3 linked regions of the Homo sapiens genome follow. The protein of the gene in region 2 interacts with the protein of the main gene of each other region in a pairwise test. Each region holds a gene or a part of one and is shown on either strand. Other genes may lie near its edges. The genes, in order: YWHAE, GSK3A and HTT.

Region 1 (3,653 bases), on a different chromosome or scaffold from region 2:
GTGAAACCTCGTCTCTACTAAAAATGCCCCCAAAAATTAGCCAAGCATGGTGGCACATGCCTGTAATCCCAGCTACTTGAGAGGCTGAAGCACCAGAATCGCTTGAATCTGGGAGGTGGAGGTTGCAGTGAGCTGCGATCGCACCACTGTACTCCAGCCTGGCCAGCAGAGCGAGACTCCATCTTAAAAAAAAAAAAAAAAAAGGGCTGGCCAAGCACAGTGGCTCACACCTGTAATCCCAGAACTTTGGGAGGCCGAGGCGGGCAGATCACACGAGGTCAGGAGTTCGAGACTAGCCTGGCCAACACTGTGAAACCCCATCCCTACTAAAAATACAAAAAATTAGCCAGGCATGGTGGCAGGCGCCTATAATCCCAGCTACTTTGGATGCTGAGGCAGGAGAATCGCTTGAACCTGGAAGGCAGAGGTTGCAGTGGGCCAAGATCACGCCACTGCACTCCAGCCTGGGTGACAGTGCCAGGCTCTCCCTCAAAAAAAAGAAAAAAGAAAAAAAAAAGGAAAAGAAAAGGCCAGGTATGGTGGCATCCACCTCTAGTGACAGCTACTTGGAAGGCTCAGGTAGGCGAATCGGCTGAGCCCAGGAAGCCAAGGCTGCAGTGAGCTATGAGTGCACAACTGCAGAGACAGAACAAGATCCTGTCCGGAAAAAAAAGTTACCCACAGAATTTTCAGTCCCAATTCCACCTCAAGGTGAAGTTAAATACAAGGACTCAAGCAAATACTTAGTGCACCCATTTTCATAGCAGCATTGTACTCACCATAGGGAAAAGGTGGAAACCCACTGACCACCAAAAGTTTAATGACTAAACAATGTGTGCAAAATACATAAAATGAATTGTGTAAATTCAGTCACTAAAAGGACTGAAGCTCTGATCCATGCTTTTACATGGATAAAAACATTACGCTAGATGAAATAAAGACAGCCACAAAAGGACAAATATTATATGATCCCACTTACATGAGGTATCTAGAATGGGCCAAATTCATAGTGACAACGTAAAATAAAAGTTACTAGCAGCTAGGGAGAGGGGAAATGAAGTTATTGATTGTTTAATGGCTATAATTCGCTTTGTGTGGGGTGAAGAGAAAGTTTTCAAATAGTGGTGATTACACAACACTGTCAATGTATTCGGTGCCACTAAATTGTTGTGTGTGTGTGTGTGTGTGTGTGTGTGTGTGTGTGTGTGTGTAAAAGTCTCGCTTTGTCGCCCAGGCGAGAGGGAGAGGGAGACGGGGAGAGAGAGGGAGACGGGGAGGGGGAGGGGGGGAGGAGGGGGAGGGGGGGAGAGAGGGGGAGAGAGAGAGAGAGAGATTTGAAAAAAAGTCTCACTGTGTCACCCAGGCTACAGTGTACTGGTGCAATCGAGGCTCACCGCAACCTCTGCCTCCTGGGTTCAAACAATTCTCCTGTCTCAGCCTCCCGAGTAACTGGGATTGCAGGCATGCACCACCACACCCGGCTAATTTTGTATTTTTAATAGAGACAGAGTTTCACCATGTTGGTCAGGTTGGTATCGAACTCCTGATCTCAGGTGACCCACCCACCTCAGCCTCCCAAAGTGCTGGGATTACAGGCGTGAGCCACTGCACCCAGGCTATCACAACTTTTTAAAAGTAAAAAGTTATGTACGTATAAATATTCCTTACATATTTATCTACATTATCAAAAACTGGGAACAAGCTGAAGTATAAATGGGGGAACAGTTTAACACACATTAGTAAGACTGAAACTTGTTTATGCTAAAACAGAAAATATAAAATTATGTTTGCTACGAGAGTAACTATTAAAAACATGCCCATAGAAACAGAACACTGGCTGGGTGTGGTGACTCATGCTTGTAATCTCAGCACTTTGGGAGGCGAAGGCGGGCGGATCACTTGAGGTCAGGAGTTCCAGACCAGCCTAGCCAAAATGGTGAAAACACCGTCTCTACTAAAAATACAAAAAAAATTAGTTGGGCATGGTGGCAGGCCCCTGTAACTCCAGTTACTCAGGAGGCTGAGACAGGAGAATCACTTGAACCCAGGAGGTGAAGGCTGCAGTGATCTGAGATGGCGCCACTGCACTCTAGCCTGGGAGACAGAGTGAGACATGGTCTCAAATTTAAAAAAAGACTGAAAACTAATATAACAAAAATTAAAATAATTCTAATTCCTCTCATTTCCTTCCTCTACTCATTTTAACATGTTAGATTTCAATCTACCAGCAACAAAAATATCCCACATCAAAATAATTATGCTGACTGCTATGCTAGTGGGTTGAGACAGGTCTGTTTTAATACTATCCAAAGTAGTTTCAGTAAGAGCCAAAAGAATTACTATGCAGCCAAGTCTACAAAGACAGGCCCAAGAAACAACACGGAAAACCCAAACAGCGCCCCCCTTAACTTTCACGCTGAGCGCTGCTGTTCTTCCCCACAACTTACCTGCAGGCACGGTCAGGGGAATTAAGAATTTCGTAGTAGAATACGGAAAAATTGAGAGCAAGACCTAAGCGAATAGGATGCGTTGGTGGAAGTTCTGTCATTGCAATATCACTAGCAGCTTTATAAGCCACTAGGCTGTTCTCCGCAGCCTCCTTCCTGTCGTTTCCTGTGGCAAATTCTGCCAGATACCTGTGGTAGTCCCCTTTCCTAAAACAAAACCAAAATTAAAAAAAAAAAAAAAATTTAAACTAGGAACGATTTTTAAAGGAAAATAAGCTAAAATTGTTCTATATTATATAAAATGTGACAAAAATATATGTAACAATTAGGTGTACTTCAATAATTTTAAACACTCTCAGGAATAACTGGCTTCGTTTCATTTTTTTCCTTAGACATTTCATATTACTAAATATAAGCAAAAATCCCAGGAAATTAACTGAGGAGCCTCTAAAAATTAATAAAATTATCACCTGATAGACCAGAATTAAACAAGCAAGTGGTTCCAAGGAATGGCATGACAGTTTATTAATCATAAAATAAAATGTCTATATATAACACTAAGCACTGTGAAATGTATGCCGTTTGGGGGAGGGGAATGGGATAGGTCTCACAAAAACAAAAGAATATAAATAAGCAAAAGCTAATACATTTTCATAATAGCCCAACCACCTTTTCATTACAATATTAACTATCCTTCTAACATTGAACAATTATTCTTAAATAAAAGTTGAAAACCTACATAGAACAAAGTTATGGTTCTAAAAGGACCAACTTTCAATCTTACATTTTCCCTTCTAGTATAGAACCTACATTTTATAATAGAAAACCTTGGACTCGCCAGTGTTAGCTGCTGGAATGAGGTGTTTGTCCAGTACATCCAGAATGTCACAACAGATTAACTTTAGCTCAGTCTCAACCTAAAAAAAAAAAAATTTTTTTTAAATCAGATTAAGTCTAGAAATTCTACAAATTATTACATATTCTATCTCTGGTTTTGAGGTAGAGAGCTTAGTATTAAAAAGAATTTGTATCCCTCTCCAAACTCCCTTCTTCCTTCTTGACACAAAAGCAGAGAAAAGCTGCCTCTAGGTTATAAAAAGTATCTTTTCCCTTCTGCATGCTGCCTATTGTTACACACACACATGCAGGCACGCACACACGCCAGCCCCCACACCCCCTTCACAGTACCACAGTACAGCTACAGAA
Region 2 (3,066 bases):
TTCCGCCCATGCCCCACTATCTGGCCCCAGCATGTTTTAAGTGAGGATAAAAGTCAAGTTCTCTGTCCCCACCTTCACAGGGTTGTCACTTCCCAACATCCCTAAGAGGTGGACCAGGTAGGTGTCCTGTTTAAGACTTGGAAATGAAGGCTTGGAATCTTCTAGGGTTCCATCTCCAGCCATGGCCACCCAACAAAGAGTCTACAAGCAGGCTAAGTTTTGGCCTGAGTGACTCCTCATCATCTCATGTCCCCCCAGACCCTAGAGCAGCAGGCAGCTTGGGCTAAGACAGACGGCCCATTGTTCAAGTCCTGACTCTTCTGTCACTTAAGCTCCATGGCCTTCCCCTCTCTGATCCCCAGTTGGCTCACCAGTTACTGGGAGGTTAATCCCTCCCTCCCTAAGCAGAAGCAGATGATTTATGCTGGGTCATGGAGCAGGCTCCTCCTAGGCCTCTACAGCAGATAACCCAGATGGAGCTCATCACCACACGTGCAGAGAAAGCCACGGTGTGAGAAGGTTGGGCACCTGAGCCAGGGCCTTCGGACAGCCCTCTGCCTGAGATGCAGCTCACTCCCGTCCCAGAACAGTCCCCCCACCGGAAGCCCCCACCACCTCAGCGGAAACAGGCAGCCGGACAGAAAGCAGGTTTTCATGCCAATAATTTATTGAACGGAGGTCTGTACACAGGCAAACCTTACTGTGGAAACTAAGACATCAGGAGCTCTCTCCACTCCCCTGGCCCTCCAGGGTGGGGTGAGGAGGGAGTAGACCTTGGGGGCAGAGGACAGGAGGGGAGTTACAGCTGTAGGAGGGGCGGGGCCAGGTTGGACGGTGCGAATCGACGTTTTCTTTAAGAAAAAAATTATAACAATCTATTTACACCCGGGGGCCAGGGAAGGGAAGAGGAGACGGGCTGGGCTGGTTCTATTTACAAGGGACACAGGAGGGGAGGGGGTCTGGAGGAGGTGGAGGTCTGGGGGAGGGGAGGGGGCCAAGGGGGTAGGAGGTCCTCATCCCCCCAACACCCTGTCCTTCTCTTCCCTCCCCACAACCAGTTAAAATCCTCTTAAAAAGCCCACCACAGGGGTGAGGCTGGTGAGGGAGGGACTGGAGGTGGGGACAGGGACTCATTTACCTCTGCCCTCTAGTCTAGGGGCCCAGCCAGGGCAGGAGCTTGATGGGCTATGGCCCCCCTTCCCAGCCCCTCTTGGGGCTCCCAGATGGAAGTGGAAGGGTGCTTGGTGGGGCCCTCAGGAGGAGTTAGTGAGGGTAGGTGTGGCATCGGTCGACTGCCAGTCTGAGCTGGTCGGAGTCTCAGTTAAAGCTGGAGGGAGGCAGGGAAGGAGCAGAGTTAGCCTTTGCCTTTCAGACACCCCTTCGCCCAACCCAAAAGTAGGAATTCTCTTGTCATAGATGCTACATTAAAAGTTACAAGCTGTTACTTTAGGTGAAGGGTTGCAAACTCAAGTGCTAAAGGGCCACGATAGTAACTGAGTGACACACCAGAGTGCCAGGCTCCATATAAGGCGGTGGCTGGGCTGGGCACAGTGGCTCACGCCTGTAATCCCAGCACTTTGGGAGGCTGAGGTGGGCAGATCACAAGGTCAGCAGTTCGAGACCAGCCTGGCCAACATGGTGAAACTCCATGTCTACTCAAAATACAAAAATAAGCCAGGCATGGTGGTATGAGCGTGTAATCCCAGGTACTTAGGAGGCTGAGGCAGGAGAATCACTTGAACCCAGGAGGCAGAAGTTGGAGTGAGCCGGGATTGTGCCACTGCACTCCAGCCTGGGTGACAGAAAAAGACTCCGTCTAAAAAATATAAAGGGCGCCCACTGTCTACTGTCAGTAGGATGGGCGGGCCCATTGCTGCCCAATCTGATTTTCTTCCCCAAGAGAAACAGGAAATCTGAATTTTTACATAAAATAGCCCCATTTTTAAACGTGGACACCATGGCCAGGCACAGCGGTTCACGCCTGTAATCCCAACACTTTAGGAGGCCAAGCGGGAAAATCACCTGAAGTTCAAGACCAGTCTGGCCAACATGGTGAAACCTCATCTCTAGTAAAAATACAAAAATTAGCCAGGCGTAGTGGTGTGTGTCTGTAATCCCAGCTACTCGGAGGCTGAGGCAGGAGAATTGCCTGAGCCCAGGAGGCGGAGATTGCAGTGAGCCGAGATCGAGCCACTGCACTGCAGCCTGGGTGGCGAGTGAAACTCTATTGCACAAAAAAAAAAAAAACAAACTTGGGCAACGAATTCAACTTTTTGTTTGTGTTCAGGCCAGACGTTATTTCTCTGGCTTTCCCATTGGCATTAAACACATTTAAACATTTGTACGCAAGAATACCCTCTAAAGGTGGTCATTCACATGTTGTAAGATGTGTTTCCTATGCCATCAAAATGTCGATGATTTAAAAATACATTCAGGAAACCCAGTCACTGAGCGAACAGCCCCACCCTCTCCAGGCTGAGAGATACTTTAACCCCCAGCAGATGGTCCCCACTTACCTTGTGAGGACGGGGTGAGGGTGGTAGTGCCCGCTGGGGACCTCAAGTGAGGAGGGATGAGAATGGCGTTGAGAGACGGTTGGATGGAGAGTTCTAGAAACAGGAATTGACATGCTAGTCAGGGTAGACTACAGCAGGGTTATGATGGGCACCAAATGGGAACCCAGCTATTGGGAAGGCCAGTTGTTTGTGGACACCTTCAGCCACAGACCTCTCTCAATGAAAAACCAGAAAAAGCTTAGCACAAGGCAGATCACAGTAAAGCACAACTGAAGCAGGTTCGATTCCCCCTGAATCTGGGAGTCATCTTTCCTGAGCCCCAGGCCTGCCTTGTACCCTGCCCTTAGCTCCCCACTCCTGCTTCAACACCAAGCTCCTCACAATCTTTGGCTGCCCCCCTACCCCGCCCCACTCCCCAGATCCCAGGCTATGCCCTCACCACCAGCACTGAAGTTGAAGAGAGGGGGAAGTGGGCGGTTGTTAGGCAGCTGGGTTCCCAGACATCGCAGTTCATCAAAGAAGCTGTGCGCACAGGCCTCTAGTGGGGAGA
Region 3 (3,653 bases), on a different chromosome or scaffold from region 2:
TAAAAGGGGGAGTTATCCCACAAATTTGACAATTGTAGGTTTTTTGCTTTGATTTTTACCAGTTAATTTTTACTCTTGTTGACTGGCCAGTTGTGACTTATGAGCCAGTTGGTATGGAAAGGTTCAACATGCTATCACTTAAAGAATTGAGCCTATTCCACTTTATACAGAAACAGAGGTTGAGTAAATAATCCCTAAGGCTCACTTTAACTCTTACCATACTATGGGCCTAGCACAGTGGTTTTTTTTTTTTTTTTTTTAATTCAACTGATTATTATTACTATTATTTTTGAGACAGTCTCACTCTGTTGCCCAGGCTAGAGGGCAGTGGTGTAACCACGCCTTACTGCAGCCTTGATCTCTGGGGCTCAAGCAATCCCCCCTCCACCTCAGCTTCCCGAGTAGCTGAGACTACAGGTATGCACCACCATACCCAGCTACTTTTTTTTTTTTTTTTTTTAATTTTCTGTAGGGACAGGGTCAACTATGTTGCCCATAGTCTTGAACTCCTGGGCTCAAGCAATCCTTCCACCTTGGCCTCCCAAAGTGGTCAGATTACAGGTGTGAGTCACCGTGCCCAGCATATTCAACAGACTTTACACTTAATGATAGGTTATTTCTAAATATATCCTTTAGGAAGAGGTCTATTTCAAACAAATATTCTGAGAATTAGAACTTAAACTGAAGTTTATGAAGCATTAACTTTACTGGCAACGTTTTCTTTCTAAAGCTGAGAGATGGATACATGGTGGGTATTACTGGTTACAGCTTTAGAGTGCATGGAAATATTTCCTATTAAGCTCCAATTTTAATTGTAGCAATGATAAAATGTCCACTAAGTGAAGAAATGGTTCCACAGAAGATTATGCTCACCCTCACAGCTGTACAAGCTAACTTGCAAGTAACAGAAGACTCATCCTTCAGTGTTTTCCGCAGCAAAGGAATGCAATCCGCCAAAGAAAATGTATTTCCTAACCAGAAGAACAAGCAACAAACATCATCATCTAAACTTAAACCTTAGTAAGCATAACTAGAAAAAACACAGCTGAAAAACTGGCCGTTACCTGTGAGGGTTCTAATGGTGCCCATCCAATCTCCCACGTGGAAGCGGGACCTGCTGAGGATGGAGCAGATGAGGGTCCCACAGAGAATGGCAGTGGCTCCTCGAACCTGTGGGTCTCCATGATCGATGTAGTTCAAGATGTCTGAGACATACTGTTCCTCTGTGGAGATAAATTGCTCAGCCATGGAACAATTCCCTACTATCAACTTTCTAACTCGAAACAAAAGCTTAATTCTCAGGAAAGAGAAAAAGAGGTGTGAAGAGAAGATCCAAATTCAGAAATGACTTCACTATAATAACCCTAAGTGATTAAAAAAAAAAAAGTTTCAGGATTTAAGAATTAGAGATTCATCATATTGCCAATATGTCCTCAATACCACAGACTTTCTGGATTATAATTCTAGGTTGTCAGATAATAAATCTGATTAAAATTCCAGATTCCACTTAAAAAAGATTAGAAAAAACCCTATTACACACTTACCTCATATAAATTCAAAAACACAAGTGTACCCTCTCACCCAAAGAAAAAGAGAGAACGAGAAGGCTCCATAGTAAGCATGGGCGCGATGGAGACTTGGGTCCACTGCTGCCTCAGCCAGTCCTGGTTCCCACTCACCCTGAGTGTGAATGCCTGGCCTGGCTGAGTGCGACTCAGCGCCACTGCGACCAGGCACAATTTGTGCTTTAGGTTTAAATCCGATGTGTATATATGTTGGCTCTTACGTGCTGAGGTTTCTACTTTTCTCCTCTATGGGTTTCATCTAAAGGGAACCCATGAAACAAAGAACTTCACTATTCATGTGTTTTCTGAAGAGCTACAACGCAGGTCAAATATCCCAAATGAACTCAAAACACTTACTGCTCTAAAACTAAAATAGTCAATACTGAAATAGTTTTTACAATAATGATTAAATCTGAGAAAATAAGATGTGAACTTTTAACATACCAGGGTATTCCGTGGTGTCAAGAGGAACTTTATAGAGTTTGCTGAAGAAAGATTCCGGGTGGAGGGCCACAGCTGCTCCCACACAGCTGAGGGCCAGGGCCTTCACGCTGACCCTCACATCCCTGTCCGGAACCAGCACTGCCAAGAAATCACCCAAGCCACCTTCAGCCTCAAACAACAGATTGTTTTCAAATGAACAAAACCAGACCCAATAACCTACCTGCTCCCATCATTTCCTCCCTCCCCTCGGCTAGTGAAAACCAAACTCATCCTCAGATTCTACTTCCTCTGCTGCACGCAAGGCAAAAACAGGCCACCAAGCTGACCTCTGAAACCTAGTTATTTCCTTCAACTGTGCACATCCCCTTTTGTACTCACCATTTTTTCCCCCTGTTAGCAAAAACGAAGCAGATAAAAGGCGGACACAATGGACAAGAGGTGCAGAGTCATCATCAGTGGACTGTCCAATGTCACCTTTGATGCGGCAAGGCTAGAAAGGAGACAATGACACTTGTTTGTCTCATACTCAACAATACATTCATGCATTAGTTCATTCAACAGATAGTTCCAGAGCAGCACTTAAGCCAGGTGCTGGGGATAAAGAGATGCCCTGGTTTGTGCCCATATGCACACCTGACCTCACAGAGACCATGGCCAAGCAGAAACAGACAAGTCAGAGGCAGCAGGACACAGGGTCACAGGGCTGTGGCAGGGGATAAATGCAGCATGCAGGGAGGGTGGGCGTGGTAAGAAGGCAGTTGACACTAGGCATTCAGGAACGGCTGCTGCAGAAGCAAAGCATGAAAGGTCTTCTACAGGACAAGCAGAAGCTACTTGGGGAAAGGCAACAGCCTGGGGAAGCCCAAATCTAAGAGGAAGTGGGCCTGGTAGATAGGGAGATGCCAAAGGCTATAATTCTGATTGATGGGACGAACTGTGAAACGCTATTCCTTGTCCTTGAGGAATTAAAAGTGAAGACAGTTACATTTACATGTAAAAAGATAATATGAAGAGAGACTTTTAGAACAGTTCAGTAGAACCAAAACAAGAAACGTTGCAGGCCATACGCAACCATCAAATGAATGATCCAAGAAATCAGACAAGGAAACATTCAGTACAGAATAGATTTGTCTGGGGCACACTCTCAAAGGAGGCAGAACTCAGGCAATTCTCAAGGCTGTGGGTAGTACCTGGAAAGGCAGAAAACAACAGGCCTGGGAAGAGCTGGTATTTAAAGGGGAAATTTAAAGGCCCAGGGATGGGAAAGCAATAAAGTAGACAGTAGCCAGGGCGATTTTAAATCCTCACACAAGCTCAGAAACACCAAGTCGTCTCAAGCCTATGTCCCTCACCTTGTTTTCTTGATCACCCGGTTCAGTAGCTTCATCTCTCAACACAAATTTATCAACACTGCTGTCAGAAGGCTGCCTGCAGTGACTCATGTTTTTCAATAAATGTGCCTGTTGAAGGGCTTTAAAAACAGAGAAATCAAGATTAAGTGACAAATTTCCACTTAAAATACAATTATACATTTATGCTAAGATAACTCAAAAGTATAAGATTTAGATCAAGAAAAAGTATGATTATTCCTCAATTGGTCATTTTCATCAGCTATTCAGAACTCAGAAAACAGTATCAAAGGAC

What was found.
Region 1: the proteins of GSK3A (region 2) and YWHAE interact in binary tests that used the Homo sapiens proteins (3 or more experiments, as listed by UniProt).
Region 3: the proteins of GSK3A (region 2) and HTT interact in binary tests that used the Homo sapiens proteins (3 or more experiments, as listed by UniProt).

What each region holds. Positions count from the first base shown.
Region 1 is NC_000017.11:1,358,645-1,362,297, forward strand, and holds part of YWHAE (14-3-3 protein epsilon), read right to left. Parts: intron 3,365-3,653; coding exon 3,258-3,364; intron 2,655-3,257; coding exon 2,448-2,654; intron 1-2,447. UniProt on the Homo sapiens protein: Adapter protein implicated in the regulation of a large spectrum of both general and specialized signaling pathways. Binds to a large number of partners, usually by recognition of a phosphoserine or phosphothreonine motif.
Region 2 is NC_000019.10:42,229,541-42,232,606, forward strand, and holds the end of GSK3A (glycogen synthase kinase-3 alpha), read right to left. Parts: coding exon 2,956-3,066; intron 2,610-2,955; coding exon 2,517-2,609; intron 1,328-2,516; coding exon 1,254-1,327; 3' UTR 650-1,253; downstream 1-649. UniProt on the Homo sapiens protein: Constitutively active protein kinase that acts as a negative regulator in the hormonal control of glucose homeostasis, Wnt signaling and regulation of transcription factors and microtubules, by phosphorylating and inactivating glycogen synthase (GYS1 or GYS2), CTNNB1/beta-catenin, APC and AXIN1.
Region 3 is NC_000004.12:3,130,132-3,133,784, reverse strand, and holds part of HTT (huntingtin), read right to left. Parts: intron 3,481-3,653; coding exon 3,362-3,480; intron 2,500-3,361; coding exon 2,388-2,499; intron 2,148-2,387; coding exon 2,010-2,147; intron 1,224-2,009; coding exon 1,065-1,223; intron 972-1,064; coding exon 874-971; intron 1-873.